Linked DNA regions of Homo sapiens: region 2 is linked to region 1. A link means that fine-mapping ties the variant in region 1 to the expression of a gene that starts in the linked region. Tissue or cell type: whole blood. Region 1 holds a variant in brackets; the other region holds the start of a gene. All regions are shown on one strand. Distances are between the middles of the regions.

Region 1 (8,176 bases):
GCAACCAAGGTCACAAAGTCTGTAGAAGCCCGAGTGTCTAAGCCTTAGAACCCCGATCCCAATGAGACCTTTGCTGGGGTCTCACCATCAGGGCTCTTGAAATTCAAAGCCACACCCTCTCAGCATCCGCCGAGATGTTAGGATGGAAAGAGGTACCCCTTGCTGCCACTTCACCCCTATGTCCCATCTATCTGCCCCAAAACCAGCCAGTTGGTGTCCCCATAACTCTGCTGCAGGACCACTCCAGCCTTCCCGAGCCTTCTGCCCTTCCTCCCGGGCCACAGCCCACAGGCCCCAGGAGCTGGTTTTGGGGGCACACGCTCTTCCAGCTCCCAGCATCTCCCCTCTCCTCCCCAAGTCTCAAGCCTCCCTGCCCCAACTCAGGATGGAGGTCCTGGACCCACAGCCAGGGAGAGCCAGGTGGGGCAGCCTGCACAGGAGGTCCGGGCACTTTCTGACTCTGGGCTCCAGAAGCCAAGGCCTCCCTCAAGGAAACAGAAAGGACTGGGGGCACAGTTCACATGATCATGAAGATAAGGGTTCCCGCAGCACACCCCATAAGAACCGTGGCACTGGCCTTTACACCCTGAGGTCCTACTTCACCCCTGGAGCCACGGCTGAGGGCAGGGCGCTGAGGGGCTGTGCCTGGGGACTTGTGCTGCTGAGACCTCCACTGGTGACACAGGGGCTCAGCACCCCTGGTGAAGCAAGCAGGGTCCCAGCAGAGAAAGGAACCTGCAGGATAGGGGTGTGGTGTGTGTGGTGTGTGTGTATGTGTGTGTGCACATGTTTACACGTGGATATGCATGTACGTGTGTTGTATAGCCAATTCCTTGCAATAAATCTCTCTATGAGACACATAAGAGATATTACATATACATGGAGGGGATGAGACAGAGAAAGGAAGGGAGGGAGGGAGAGATTTATTGTGAAAAATTGGCTCAGACAAGGTGGGGGCTGGCTGAGCAAGGTGGAAATCCATAGGGCAGGCGGCACCTGGGCCTCTCGGGCAGTAGGCGATGCTATAGTCCACAGGTAAAATCTCTCTGTCCTCAGGGAAACCCCAGCTCTGCTCTCAAGGCATTTCACTGGTTGCACAAGGCTTCCCACCCCTACCCCCGCCACATGATTGAGAGTAATGGCCTTTCACTCCAGTCAGCTGACTGCAGATGTGACATACTTACAGAACACCTTCACAGTAACCCCTAGATGACTATTTGGTTGACCCAAGAAACTATCATGCTTAGGGGCTGAGAGCTGCTGAAGTCCTGGCAGGGAGGGGTGAGGACCGGTGCTGCCGCCCTGGTGACCGGCGTTTCCAGGAGCCACCAGCCTCACCCACCATTTCCCGAGTTGGTCCCTCATCCCCTTGGCTTCCTGCGGCGGCCGAGGTGGGGTCCGGGGCTGCTGAGGTAGGGTCCAGGGCTGCTTGCTGAGCAGGGCTACCTGGTCCCCAGGGCTTCACCTGGAAGGCCTCCCACTAAGGCCCAGGACTGAGGCATCCTCAGGGCCCGTTCCACCGCCTCTGATGGAGCCTGGGGCTGAGCTGATGGGTGCTCGGACTCTACCCGACACTGCTCTTGTGCAGTGGCCGTCAGGGCTACCTGGACACAGCCTGGCTGCTGCCTCCACAGACCGCTCATGCCCAGACACGAGGGAGAGCCGCCTGTAGGTCTTCAGCTGCGAGCTCTGCCTCCAGCACTTCAACGGAAGGGAATGGGCCCAGGGAATAGGACGTGGGCTTGGCGCATGACTTGAAGTGCTTTCCACCCTACCAGATGCCCTGAAGATAAGAGCCGGCCCAGAACTCCGTGTCTCCGTGACAAAATGCTTCTGATCACCTAATCTGAGCGGCTGATCTCAAGTCTCTGCAGGGTTGTCACGTGTCAGGGGAGGAGAATCCAGGTGTGCTGGATCCAGCTCGCCCGCTCCTGGACAGATGGTGCACATTTCTTCTCAATCTCGTGTTCAGCCATGTCATGTTGGTAGCTTGAAATCAGCCATGATGAGAATATTTACACCACAGATGTTGACGAACACTTCACATGAGCTCCCCTCAATCCCCTGCGAGAGCTGCTTGTTAAACATTTACCTGCACACCACAGGAGAAGCCCCAGAGGATAAAGCTGGGATGGGGAGGAGGGAGGTTGGGGAGGAGGGAGGTTCAGGTATCTATTTTTTTTTTTTTTTTTTGAGACAGAGTCTCGCTCTGTCCCCAGGCTGGACTGCAGTGGCACGATCTCGGCTCACTACAAGCTCTGCCTCCTGGGTTCACACCATTTTCCTGCCTCAGCCTCACAAGTAGCTGGGACTACAGGCGTCCGCCACCACGCCCAGCTAATTTTCTGTCTTTTTAGTAGAGACGGGGTTAGCCAGGATGGTCTTGATCTTCTGACCTCATGATCCACCTGCCTTGGCCTCCCAAAGTGCTGGGATTACAGGTGTGAGCCACCGCACCCAGCCGGGTTCAGGTATCCATTACTAAGTAACAGCCCACCTCAAAACTTAGTGGCTTAGCCGGGTGCAGTGGCTCACGCCTATAATCCCAGCACTTTGGGAAGCTGAGGCGGGTGGATGGCCTGAGGTCAGGAGTTCGAGACTAGCCTGGCCAACATGGTGAAACTCCATCTCTACCAAAAATACAAAAATTAGCCAGGCTTGTGGTGGTGGGTGCCTGTAATCCCAGCTACCTGGGAGGCTGAGGCAGAAGAATGGTTTGAACCCAGGAGGCGGAGGTTGCAGTGAGCCGAGATCGCGCCACTGCACTCCAGCCTGGGTGACAGAGCGAGACTCTGTCTCAAAAAAAAAAAAACTTAGTGGCTTAAGATGACGGTGATTGATTCCTCCTCACGAGTGTGCGTGTCACTGGGGTGGTTCTGCTGCTGCATGTGGTATTGAGGAAGGTCACTCTTGCAGCTGCGTGCATGGCTTTTCCCTCCAGTAGGATGGCCTGAGCTCTCCACAGCGTGGCAGCTTCCCAGAGACCAGGAAGCTGCCAGGCCTCCCCCACATTCTATCCGCCAAATGGGTCTCAAGGCCTGTCCAGATCTGGTGTGGGAGGGAACTACAGAAGATCATCAATAGCAGGGGATTCACTGGGGCCCATCAAGGCAGCAGTCTTCCAGCTGGGTGGGCTGGCTCATCCCTGGAATCCCAGGATTTAAGGAGGCCAAGGTTGGAGGACCACTCGAGGCCAGGAGTTTGAGACCAGCCTGGCAACATAGCGATGACAGCCTGTCTCTACAAAAAATTAAAAAATTAGCCAAGCATGGTGGGGCATGCCTGCAGTCCCAGCTACTCAGGAGGTGGGAGGATTGCTTGAGCCCAGGAGGTTGGGGCTGTAGTGAGCTATGATTGCACCGCTGCACTCCAGCTTGAGTGACAGAGTGAGACCCTGTCCCCCAACACCCCCGCCCCCCCAAAAAATAGGCCCCGCAGTGTGGCCTGGTGAACTTGGCCTCCTTGAATGTGTCCTATATAAAGGTGTGTGTTGAGCTTCCCCTTGGGGCAAGGCACAAGCCCCTCGCCCACCCACGTGGTCTAACTGGACGCTCACAGCAGCCTCGAGAGGCGGTCCTGCCCGTCCCGGTTTCCAGGTGGAGCAGCTGAGGAAAGCCTGAGACGCTTGCCCCAGGTCTCCCGGGTTCTCAGCGGCCACCCGTTGTCCTGGGAGGTTGAGAATTCCTGTTCTAGGTGCCCCTTTGCTGGGACACAGCATCTCTAAAGGGGGAGACAGCCATCTTGAGGTCCTCCCTGTATTATGAGAAGAGGAA[G/A]CTCTCGCTGAAGAAAGGGAAGGCAGATCCTTCCTCCCCCAAGTCCACATCGTTTTCCTTCCTCTTAGGAGGTCTGCCTCTAGCTCTTATCTCCCCACTCCCCACGTGCACAGAGTCGCAGGGTGAGGGCTGAGCTGTGACGCCAGTGAGGCCAAGATGTCAGCCTAGGGTTGAGGACCCTGGCTGGGCGGGTCCTGCTGGGAGCTGAGGCTGCAAGACCCCGGCTTGGCCGTACCCCGAGAAGCAGCCACTGCACTGACATGGACGAACTGTGCCGTGTGGAACCCACTTGCCCCACCTAGATCTCAGCTTCCCTGCCGCCAAGCGAGAAAACAGAACTGACAGGTCTCTGATGGCCATCTCATCTCCATGCCAGGTGTTCTAGAAAGAGTTCAGAGACCCAAGTGTCCATCCACACTTGTCCACGTCTTGGTTCCAGGAGTGTCTGTCAGGGATGTTCCCCCTGACCCTGGATATTCCTTCTCCTCTGTGAAAGTACGGTCACGTATGGTGCAAGTATGGGCATGTGTGATGCAAGGGACGCTGCTGGGCAGCTGCCTGTGCAGGCACCGGGGACAGGAAGGTGGATAGGGCATAATTTGTGGGGGAAAAGGCATGTAAACATGTATTACAACATAAGAGAGTACGTGTAGCGGGAATGTAAATTTGTACAACCTTCTAGAAAAGTCATTTGGCAATACAGATCAGGAACTTCCCAGATGTTCCCAAATATCTTCGGAAACAATTATCCCATTTCTGGGAATCTAACTTAAGAGAGTAACCAGAACAAGGGAGAACAAGATGCTTATTGCAGGATTAGTTAGAACTTGAAAATAACCTAAATGCCCAACAACAGAGAATCAGTTAATTGGATTATGTCACAGACAGTTAATATTTCACAGCTGTTAAAAATAGCTGCTACAAAGAATTTTCATAAAATGGTTTTTGAAATAACATTAACTGAAAAATGCAAAACAGAATTGAGGAGATGGAGCTCCACTTGGGAAAAAATAAGATAATTCAGAGAGAAGGAATTTACCAGAATACCAACAGCGATCACATTTGGGTAATAAATGACTTTAGAGGTGATTTTAAAATTATTTTGTTTCTCAATCATCTTTAAAAGCCCAGTGCAAAGAAATTTGCTGGCCAGGCACAGTGGCTCATGCCTGTAATCCCAGCACTTTGGGAGGTTGAGGCGGGCAGATCATCTGAGGTCAGGAGTTTGAGACCAGCCTGGCCAACATGGTAAAACCCTGTCTCTACCAAAAATACAAAAATTAGTCAGGTGTGATGGCATGTGTCTTTAGTCCCAACTACTTGGGAGGCTAAGGCAGGAGACTTGCTTGAACCCGGGAGGTGGAGGTTGCAGTGAGCCAAGATCACACCACTGCACTCCAGCCTGAGTGACAGAGTGAGACTGTCTCAAAAAAATTTTTCCTTCATGAAGTCTTTTACAGTTCCTCTAGGCAGAAGTGATCTGTCACTCTTTGATGCCTGGGACATTTGTGCCTCTCTTGTGGCATCTACCCTCTGTGCTGTGCTCATATGTCTGTGTCTTCACCCAGCTGAACCCCTTAGTGATATGGCTGTGCACATGTTTGGGTCCTAGTGTTTAACTCCAGGCCTGCCCACACTGTGCACCTATTGGCCATCTAGATGTGCACTTGGGTTCTGGCTGGCTCCTATACCCGTGGTTCTCTTTTACTTTTGAAGACTCCTTTTAATGTTAATATTTTTTCGTGGTAGCTATACCATCTATCAGTGGAAAATACTCAATGACAAAAGACACCTTGTCTTTGTCCCATGAATTCAACAGGGCTTCTTTTTTTGAGAAGGAGAGTCACTCTGTCACCCAGGCTGGAGTGCAGTGGCGCAATCTCAGCTCACTGCAACCTCCGCCTCCCTGGTTCAAACGATTCTCGTGCCTCAGCCTCCCGAGTAGCTGGGATTATAGGCACACACCACCATGCCCGGGTGATTTTTGTATTTTTAGTAGAGATGGGGTATTACCATGTTGGCCAGGCTGTTCTTGAACTCCTAACATCAGGTGATCCACCCACCTCGGTCTCCCAAAGTGCTGGGATTACAAGGGTGAACCACCATGCCCGGCTTCAACAGGGTTTCTTATGGGCTAGTTTTTCTCCAGTTACGACTCAAATTTTCTTGCTTTATTACATGTCTAATAATTTTTGATTGGATGCTGGACATTATGATACAACATTGTTGGGAATCTGAATTTTGTTGTTTTCTTTCAAAGATTAGTGAATTTTGTTTTGGCAATGAGTTAAATTATTGGTAGATGTTTTGCTCCTCAAGGCTTGTTTGTGGGCTCGTTGGGACAGGTCTAGAGCAGCCGTTACCCCAGGGTTAGTGTAGTACACCTGAGGCATGTGCTTTTCAAAAGGACAGAGATCAGGGCAGTGGTTACCAGGGGCTGGAGTGGAGGGAGGAAAGGATGACCAAAGGGCACAGAGAACATTGGGCAGTAGAAATGTTTTCTATCTTGATTGTGGTGGTGATTACATGACTGTATGCATGTGTCATAGAGTTGTACACCTAAAAATGGAGAATTTCACTGTATGTAAATGATACCTGAATAAATCTAACTTTTTTAAAAAAGGGTGGTTTTTCTGAGGTCTTGGCTGAATGTCTGGCATATTCGGTGTGGTCTCTTCACTCTGGCTGCCCAGAACTCCAAGGTCTCTGTGCCCGTGCATCCTCTGGCACCCCCTTCTGCTCCCAGCTCCCAGCAGCTCTCCTCTGCCAGACTTTGCCGTCTCATCCTGTGCACGTGCAGTTTAGTATTCACTCAAAGACTCAAGAGAGCTCCTCTGCAAACGTCTGAAGCTCCTTCCCTGCTCAACCCGCTCCTCTCTGGAACCCCACAAGTTCCAGTCCCCTCGGTGGTCCTGAACTCCAGTCTCTGCCTGCTCCGGCCCATGCCATCACCACTCTCTGAGCTCTACTTCCCTGTGCTGTGTTCAGAAAATGCCCCAAACACCTCCGGGCAGAGAGCCAGGGTGAAGCTGGAACTCCCTCATGTGTGTCCTTCTCTAGGGTCACAGCCCTGCCATGGCACCTATGCTTAAAAACAGTTGCTTCATATAATTTGTCTAGTTTTCTAGTTGTTTATGGGGGAAAGGTAAGTCTGCTATCTGTCACCGTCTTATGGCCGGACCCAGCAGTCCCAGCAGAGCTGTGGGAATTTAAAGTTGGTTTCACTCCTCCCACCTCATCTCCATAAGCTCTATGCTCAAGCGGCTCGAGCGATCCCCAGAGTAGCCATCCCATGCTTGGAGTGCCTGCTCTGGACTCTGTGCGCCCCTGACTCCTAGAACATTGACACCCACCCTCCCTCCTCCTACTCACCCTGCAGCTTCCACTTGGACTCCAGGAAGTCTTCCCTGGCCCTTATGCTGGGCCCAGGAGGGTCTGTGTGTGCCCGTAGCTCCCAGGCATCCCCGTAACCACTTATCGGTTGTGTCTTCCCGGAGCCCAAGGACTCTGAGTATGGGGCGGAGACCCTGCCCCTGCTACATCCTATTCCTTCGCCTTGGGCCTGGAGCACGTCCACGAACACGTGTTGAACACAGAGTAAAGTAGCACCTGTGCACACATGTACACCCATATACACACCTGTCCACCTGACCCGCCCATATGCACATCCATACACACGCCTACCCACCTGACCTGCCCATATGCACGCCGGTCCACCTGACTCGCCCGTACACACAGTGGTCCACCTGACTCACCCATACACACGCCTGTCCACCTGACTGCCCATACGCACGTCTGCCCACCTGACTCGCCCAAACGCACAGCCATACGCACGCCTGTCCACCTGACTCACCCATACGCACACCTGTCCACCTGACTCACCCATACGCACGCCTGCCCACCTGACCCACCCATACGCACGTCTGCCCACCTGACTCACCCATACGCACGTCTGTCCACCTGACCCACCCATACGCATGCCTGTCCACCTGACTCGCCCATATGCACACCCATACACACGCCTGCCCACCTGACTCACCCATAGGCACGCCTGCCCACCTGTCTCGCCCATACGCACACCCATAGGCATGCCTGCCCACCTGACCCGCCCATACGCACGCCTGCCCACCTGACCCGCCCATACACACGCCTGCCCACCTGACCCGCCCACACACACGCCTGTCCACGTGACACGCTGACACGCACGCCTGTCCACGTGAGCCGCCCATACGCACGCCTGTCCACCTGAATCACCCATATGCACACCCATATGCACGTCTGCCCACCTGACTCGCCCATACGCACACTCATACGCACACCTGTCCACCTGACCCACCCATATGCACGCCTGCCCACCTGACCCGCCCATACGCATGCCTGCTCACCTGACCCGCTCATACGCA
Region 2 (8,176 bases), 24 kb before region 1:
CAGTGAGCAGCAGGCCACCAGACTTGTGCAAGCAGGGCTGACAGGACACCAAGTTAGTGCTGAGTAAACTGTCCGTGAGGTGTGTGTCCTGCAAAGTTTCAAAGTGTCCCAGAAGCTGCTCTTCTCCTTCTCTGCTGTCAGAAAGCCGGCAATCTGGAGTCTGGATGGTGGGAAAGCAGGCAGCAGGGCTCTCCCCAGTGTGTCGGATCACGCTAGTCCCCTTGGCCCTGCAGGGAGAGCTGGGCACTGGCTCCAAACCCAGCAAGCCCCTCTCCGCGCCCCCGCTCAGAGCTCTGGCCACTACGGCAGAGGACTGGAGAACATCCGTGGCTGTACATGCTTTGGAATCTGTTACTTGGGGAGAAACAGGTGTCCTTGTCGATGGCTCCACGAGATCAGGGCTCTGAGGAGGAGTTATGCACTAAAAAAAAAAGTACCATGTTAAAAGGTTGCTTTAAATTTTAAAAGGGATTTAATTCATCACAATGCTCCCAATACCTTTACACAGAATCATCTAGACACTCAGTTAACCCTGTTTTCAACATCCCAGTGGGTTTCAAGGCTGCATGAGGCACTCTGCTTTCTCAGCTTATTCCCAACGTGTTTACCTCTCCCAAACCTACACAAGAGCCCAGTGCAGGGAACTCTGAGAGGAGCTCCTGGCCGCCAGGCCCACCACTTCTGCAACCCTCCCGACAACCCACAGGCCCTTCCTATCCCTCTCCAAATCTGCTTTCTACACTCTTCTTTCAGAGCAAGCTTCCAGCCCAGGACAATCACAATTTCCACTTCTGTTAGCAACCTACAGTTCTCAGCTTCTCCAAGCTGAGATGCAATTTTTCCAAGTACTTTCACAGATGTAGCAAATTAAAAAAACAAAAAGCAAGAGTGACTTACTGCACCCAACTCACAGAACTCACATTAAGGAGTCGGCTGCCACGGGAGGGCAGAGGTGCCACCCAACGAAGGCAATCTGATGTCAAAGTACATGCTTTCTCCAGCTGCTACCGATATATTCTGACACTAGGCTGGAGAACCTAAGCTCCACCCCGAGATTCCCCTGGGGAAGTAAATTTCACTTTCTCACATTAATCTGTAGGTTTCATCCCACGGACATTAACCACGTAGCTAGCAAGGTATGATCCATCCATAGAAAGAGCACATTTTTCAGAAATGAAAGAAAAGTTTCTTTTTTTGTTCTTTTATTTTTTTTTGAGATGGGGTCTCGCGCTCTGTTGCCCAGGCTGGAGTGCAGTGGCACGATCTCGGCTCACTGCAACCTCCGCCTCCCGGGTTCAAGCGATTCTCCTACCTCAGACTCCTGAATAGCTGGGACTACAGGCGCCCGCCACCACACCCGGATAAATTTTGTACTTTTAGTAGAGATGAGGTTTCACCATGTTGGTCTGGCTGGTCTCGAACTCCTGACCTTGTGATCTGCCTGCCTGGCCCTCCCAAAGTGCTGGGATTACAGGCTTGAGCCACCATGCCTGGCCAAAGGAAGAGTTTCTACTCCTTCAGACCCACACAGAGAGGATACGCAACTTATTTGCCAGCATCCCAGGGAATCTTCTCACAAGTTCTTCAACACACTGAGTTCAGCTACTCTAGTCATTTCACAAAAACGCTCCTCCCTCCCACCTCCTCTTACCAGAGTCGATAAAGAATGGAAGTCTTTTGGTAGTTCAGGTGTGGCTGCATCCATATGCACAGTGGTGGTGACATCCCCAGAGTCAGAGACAGGCGTGAGGGGTCTTATCCGCAACAGGTCACCTTTCTGGGATCTTTGACCCCAGGAGCTCATACAAACAAGAGCCTCGACAGCTTCCATGTCTGTCTGCTCCAAGATGCTGCAAGTAGACCTTTCGCTGTCATGCCGCTTCCTCTCCAGGATGGACTCACATATGTCCATGATGTCAACCTAAAGGCGACACAACACAACGGCTTCTCAGTGCAGGGGAAATACAGAGGCCACCCATGATGGGCATGTGGATATGCATATCAGAAGCCTACAGTAGGCATGTAATGCACATGCAATAGTCTATAGCAACAAACACCGAGGTGTAGTAAAAGACATTCAAGGAATGCTCATGACAATTCGGCTTTTAAGCCAACATTTCACAGACAGAACTAAGCTGGCAAGCGTTGCCACCAAAAATCCTGACTCTTAAAAAGGGCTACTAAGTTCATATTTTTCTTGGGTAAATGATTAATAAAATTAACTCCTGAGGTTCAAGCCAAAAAGTGGCTGGGAGGAGGAGCAGCTGCCCAGGGAGGAGGAGCCAACACTGAGGCCATCTAGTCGGTCTGCCAGTGGCCGCGGCGCCCTGACCATGGCTCTCTGAGGCGGCAAAGCCGCCAAAGCAGTGTCCCTACAGATGCTCTCAGGGACTCTGGGGCCTTCCGCCTAGGCTTCCAGCACTCCACGCAGGTAGGGCCCATGGCGATTCCACCAGTTCCCTCCACAGATTCGGGAGTGGAAGTCATCTGTTACTGTCCCAAGGCTAGCAGGTGGTGACAAGAAGCCAACCTGCCGCGAACCCGGAGAGGATCTCTTTGCAGTTTTTTTTTTCTTTTTGAGATGGAGTCTCAGTTGCCCAGGCTGGAGTGCAGTGGCACAATCTCGGCTCACTGCAGTGCCCGCCACCACACTTGGGTAATTTTTGTATTTTTAGTAGAAAGAGAGTTTTGCTATGTTGGTCAAGCTGGCCTTGAACTGACCTCCCGGGTTCAAGCGATTCTCCTGCCTCAGCCTCCAGAGTAGCTGGGAGGCGTCCGCCACCACGCCCAGAAAATTTCGTATTTTTAGTAGAGACGGGGTTTCACCATGTTGGCCAGGCTGGTCTCCAACTCCTGACCTCAGGCGATCCACCCGCCTTGACCTCCCCAAGTGCTGGGATTACAGGCGCCCGGCCTTGTTTTTTTGAGACAGAGTCTTGCTCTGTTGCCCAGGCTGGAGTGCAGTGGCACCATCTCGGCTCACCACAACTTCTGCCTCCCAGGTTCAAGCGACTCTCCTGCCTCAGCCTCCCCAGTAGCTGGGATTACAGGCGCCCACCACCATGCTCAGCTGATTTTTGTATTTTTAGTAGAGAGCGGTTTTCCCCATGTTGGTCAAGCTGGTCTCGAAAGCCCGGCCTCAGGTGATCCGCCCACCTCGGTCTCCCAGAGTGCTGGGATTACAGACGTGAGCCACCGCACCAGACCCTCACCGTCTCTTTAATCTGGAGGGGAGGAGGGAAGAGGCTGGAATGAGCTGATCTCTTCCAAAAGAAAACTAAGCCGGGGGCGAGAGGGTGATATTACTCTGAGAAGAGTAATACCCCTCCCTCCCAGGGAGGTTACAGTGGGCCGAGATCGCGCGCCCACTGCACTCCGGCCTGGGCGATAGAGCGAGACTCCCTATCAAAAAAAAAAAAAAGGAAAGGAAACTTTAAATGTACGAAGATACACGTTTCCTCTCTATCTGCCATGCACCAAAGCATCAAAGCTTTCCGTCTGCCGAGGTTCCCCGAGATCAAACAAGACGAGGCCACCTCAAATCCCCGGCCTCTGTCCCGCAGGCTGCGCCACTAAACCCCCTGTGATGTCACAGAACCGGGCGCCGAGGCCGACTCACCACACGGGCGGGAAGGGGCTCGCCCGGCCCACAGTGCCCGCACACCACGAGGCCCGCGCTCTGCCCACGTCCACGGCTACCTCCCCGAAGCCCCCAGGTCGCGACGCTTAGGGCCCCCAACGCTCGCGTGCCGCGTTCCCGCCTCCAAGCGTTGCCCCGCCTCCAAGGCAGTGCGGCGCTCCCGCCTCCCGTCGTTGCCCCGGCCCCTAGACCTTGCCCGCCCCCAGGCCCGAGCGGCACTACCGCTAGCCGCTCTTAACCCGCCCGACGGCCGCGTGCCCCGCCCCCAAAACCGTGCCGCGTTCCCGCCAGCAGCTCTTGCCCCGCCCCCAAGGCCGCGTGCCGCGTTCCCGCCAGCCGCTCCCCCGCCCAACGGCCGTCCGGCTCACAGGACCGGGGTGACGTCATGGCTGGAAATAGCCGCGGGGCCAGCGGGGCGGGGCCGCCCAGGAAGCGCAAGACAAAGCTGCGCGGGGAACACGCCCCCTCCTCGCCCCCGCCGACCCGGGCGCGCCCGTCGCGGCCGCCGCCCCGCCCGGCTCCGGAGCCCGCCCAGGCCCCTACCGGCGCGGCCGCAGCGAAGCCCTGCACGCCCCACCTCCCGCATTTACAGGCGCGCGAGTGCCGCACCACTTCCCCCGCCTCGCCCCTCGCTCAGACGAGTAGTCCCGCCGCGGCAGCCCCACCACTCACTGCGCGCGCGTCGTCTGGGCCTGCGAAGTCCGGCGTGTGCATCGTGCAGGCCGGCCGGGAGCAACAAAGCGGCCGCGGGGCGTGAGCTCGGGCGCAGCAGCGGCCGCACGTGGGCTGCGGGCGGCGGCGGCGGCGGCAACCCGGAGCTCCTGCGGCCGGCACGCGCCTCGCCCGCCCGCGCGGCTCTGCCCCGGCGCGGCCCTCGCGGCGCGGGAGGGGCGGGGCGGCCGCGGAGGGAGCGGCTGGCGGGGCGGGGCGCGGAGGCGAACCAAAATACACCGCGCCCCTGCCGGGGCGGGGCCGGCCACCACCAGCCAATTCGTGCCCGGCCGGCCAATGAGCGCCGCGGGGGGCCGCGTGATCGGAGCCTGGCCGCGGCGTGATCGGGCAGGGCGGGACGCGGCACGTGTTTTGGTCGGAGCGAGGGGCGGGGCCTGAGGCCCTGGAAAGTAAGGGAAAGGTCGCAGCGGCGCCAGGGGCAAGCGGGGCGGAGGGGGCGGCGGGGGCGGAGGGGGCGGCGGGGGCGGAGGGGGCGGCGGGGCGGCGGGGGCGGCGGGGCGGAGGGGGCGGGGCGGCGGCTGGGGAAATCCCAGGGCCGGGGCCGGACTCGGTGCGGGGAGAGGGGACCACGCTTATAGGAACCTCCTGCAGCCCCACCGGCTGAATCCATCGGTAGCGGAGACCCACCTAGAGGCCTCAACCTGGCTTTTGTTTGGTTGTTTTTAACTTCTGTCATTCTCCCTTCGTCTCTTAGGAATGCGTCCTTGACCGGAGAGGTCGGAAAGCTGGCCGGTTCTAGGTGACATTCCTGCATCCGGTCATTTTTGCAGACAGCGGGAGTCAGAGCTTATTGGCCTGAGTGTCCCGCTGACGCCCCTCCTCTGGCGTCTCTGGGCCTCTTCCGCTCTGTTACGGGGTCAGGGGAAGCCGAAACGGGCAGTCACCCAGAAGGCGCCCGCTGAAACCCGCCCATTCTTCCCAGGCCCCGAGAAAACGCCGCCCCCTCCGGGAAGTCCTCGAGCCTGCAGGAGACATCTAGCCCGCTGTCCAGGGCACCTTTTTTTTTCTCCCTATATTTCGGTTGCTCGCGTCTCTTGGTGTGGTTTGCCCACGTCTGCAGCGCCAGGTTCGTGGAGAGCAGGAACCATGCTGTTTATTTTCGTCGCCGCAGCCTTCAGCTCAGCGAGGAGCCACCCCTCCTCCGTCTGTTCACTGCGCGCGCCTTTGCTGAGCTGTGATGCGGGTTGGCGCTCAGTGCAAGGGGCAGAGGCCGCAGTGAGGAATCCTCCTTTTTTAAAAGCTCCATCCAGGGAGCGGGAGCAGAGAGAGAATCCCGGCACCCCGGGGCTTTGCTCTGAGCGAGAGAATTCTGGTCTTAGGGGAACGGGCTGGGCCCCACCACTCACATGAGCAGGACTCTGGTCCCCACTTGTTCCTTCGGGGCCCACTCGGGTTGGGCAGAGGGGTTGACCAGGCTGAGGAGAGGGTGTTTGCTGAAATAGTAAGAGGGTTTAAGACGAAAGAACCGTGATAAACTGCTCGCATGAAGACCCCGGAGGCTCTGAGAGGGGCGCAGGGTGTTCTGTGTGTAAAAAGTTAAGTCTTAAGATACACACTGGAATATTCTCTTTTGCCTGGACTCCTGCATTCGCCTTATAACTGGTCTCCCTGCGTCCACTCCAGCTCCCAGAGCCTCTTCCCACTCAGCACCCCCAGGGGTCTTTAACCCTTTCAGTGGCTCCCACTGTACTCAGCGTAACGCTTCTGCTCCCCACTGTGGCTTGTGAGCTCCTGCAGGGACCCAGCCCCATGCCTCTCCCCACGCCCCGGAGGGACAGCCTGGGCCTCCTCTTGGGCGCCTGTCCCACCAGCCCCTCTGCCGTCTCCAGGTCCTCGCACTTGCTGTTCCCTAGAATGCTTTTCCCCCACATGCCCCCTTTACTCTCACCCGCAGTCCACCTGGAGAGGCCCCCTCTAGCGGACACACCCTCGGGGCCGACCTCCAGTCCCCTTCTGGCGGGCTTTCTTGTTTTCTTCCTCCACAACACTTTTCTTGAACTGCCCCTTTTCCATTACTTCAGTTATTTATCATCTGTCTCCCCACCAGAAGGACTCTCCCAAGGCCAGGGAGCCTGGCTGTTTAATAAGTCCACGTAGGTGAACGAGCGAATCGAAGGTATCCACCAGCCTCCCTGCTTGAACATCCCGTGAGCACCTCTAATTGTGTCCTTAAAAAAACTGAACTCAGGGCCGGGCGCGGTGGCTCACGCCTGTAATCCCAGCACTTTGGGAGGCCGAGGCGGGCGGATCACCTGAGGTCAGGAGTTGAAGACCAGCCCGGCCAACATGATGAAACCCCGTCTCTTCTAAAAATACAAAAATTAGCCTGGCACGGTGGCAGGCGCCTGTAATCCCAGCTACTCAGGAGACTAAGGCAGGAGAATCGCTTGAACCCAGGAGGCAGAGATTGCAGTGAGCCGAGATCGCACCACTGCACTCCAGCCTGGGCGTCAGAGACTCAGTCTCAAAAAAACAAACAAAAAACTGAACTCGGATTCCAGCCAAATCTGGATTTCTCACCTCCGTGAAGGGTACAACTGGAGACCCTGTTCCTTGATCTAGAAACCTGAGCGTCACCTTTACCTCCTCCCTTTCGCACAGTTGCTGTCTTCCGCCAATTACATGCCCTTCTTCCTTCTCAGTTCCTCTCAAACTCTTATGTCACCCACGCCAGCCCTTGTCCTGGCCACCACCTGCTCACCTGAATTGTTGCCACTGCCTCCCAACAGGTCTCCCTCCCTCCAGCCAGACGCCCTACAATCTGCCCTCACCTCACTGCCAGAATGATCTTCTGGAAGCAGAGGTGGAGCTGAACCTGTATTCAAGCCGTCAGTTGGAATCCAAACAGTTATAGGACTGACTTCAGGCTCCATGGCCAGGAACCCATGAGTCTTTGTAGCCAGGCTCCAGCCAGCACTTCCTGCATCATTTCTGACCAGTTTCCCAAATTGCTTTCCCTGCTGCCTTCCTGCCCCCACTGACCCAATACAGAACCCTGTACTCTCAAGGTCACGCCACTCTCTTCTGTTTCTAGACAGCATTCCTTCTGCGTGGAACATGCCAACCCTCGTCTGCTTTGACTTTGCAAAACTGCATGAGACCGCCGGGCGCGGTGGCTCACGCCTGTAATCCCAGCACTTCAAGAGGCCGAGGCAGACAGATCACCTGAGGTCAGGAGTTTGAGGCCAGCCTGGCCAGCATGGTGAAACCCCGTCTCTACTAAAAATACAAAAAATCAGCCAGTAATCCTAGCTACTCGGGAGGCTGAGGCAGGAGAATCGCTTGAACCCAGGAAGCAGAGGTTGCAGTGAGCCGAGGTCATGCCATTGCACTCCAGCCTGGGCTACAAGAGTGAAACTCCGTCTCAAAAAAGAAAAAAAAAAAGAAAAAAAGACTGCATATGACTCCCCAGTGAAGCCCTCCCTGATTGGCCTCTGCAGAAGGCAGCATGCCCGGGCTTTGGAGTCAGACCTGCATACAAATCCTTGTTTTGCCGGTGTGACCTTGCCAAGTCTTCTTTCCTGCAGGACAGAAGGCGGCAGCAGCTCTCCCTGAACTGGCACTCTGGCTTCTCTTGCCCCAGGGTCTGTTTCTGCTCCTTGGACAGCAGGCGCATGTGGGAACTGTGCCCTCTTCAGCCATGAGCCCCTGTTCTGCGCACATCTAGCCCATCTTCCAGATGGACAGACAGTCTGTGGTCGTCGCCAAACCCCTGAATCTGGCCCTGCCCGCAGTCAGAGGGATGGCAATTTGTAAGCTACAGACTATTGCGAATCATTCACTTGGAGACTGAACTAAGACTAC

Evidence for each region. PIP is the estimated chance that this variant, and not a neighbour inherited with it, causes the effect.
Region 2: KLF11 starts here. The variant in region 1 is fine-mapped to the expression of KLF11 in whole blood (TOPMed, PIP above 0.99). The same link has a PIP of 0.9 or more in blood mononuclear cells.

What each region holds. Positions count from the first base shown.
Region 1 is chr2:10,015,553-10,023,728 of GRCh38, reverse strand. No RefSeq gene overlaps it. Among named protein-coding and RNA genes, the nearest start is that of KLF11-DT, 24 kb to the left of the region's middle. RefSeq lists an enhancer at 7,737-8,176. The variant G/A (reference allele first, on the strand shown) is at 3,774.
Region 2 is chr2:10,039,895-10,048,070 of GRCh38, reverse strand. KLF11 (KLF transcription factor 11) reads right to left here and starts at 4,521. Exons shown (of 4, transcript NM_003597.5): 1 at 4,313-4,521; 2 at 1,652-1,921; 3 at 1-421. The coding sequence starts at 4,354. It overlaps KLF11-DT (KLF11 divergent transcript), which reads left to right and starts at 4,670. Exons shown (of 3, transcript NR_135558.1): 1 at 4,670-4,761; 2 at 5,067-5,438; 3 at 6,420-6,518. RefSeq lists an enhancer at 1,865-2,604, silencers at 3,828-3,897, 3,938-3,987, 4,108-4,157, 4,448-4,677 and a promoter at 4,364-5,263.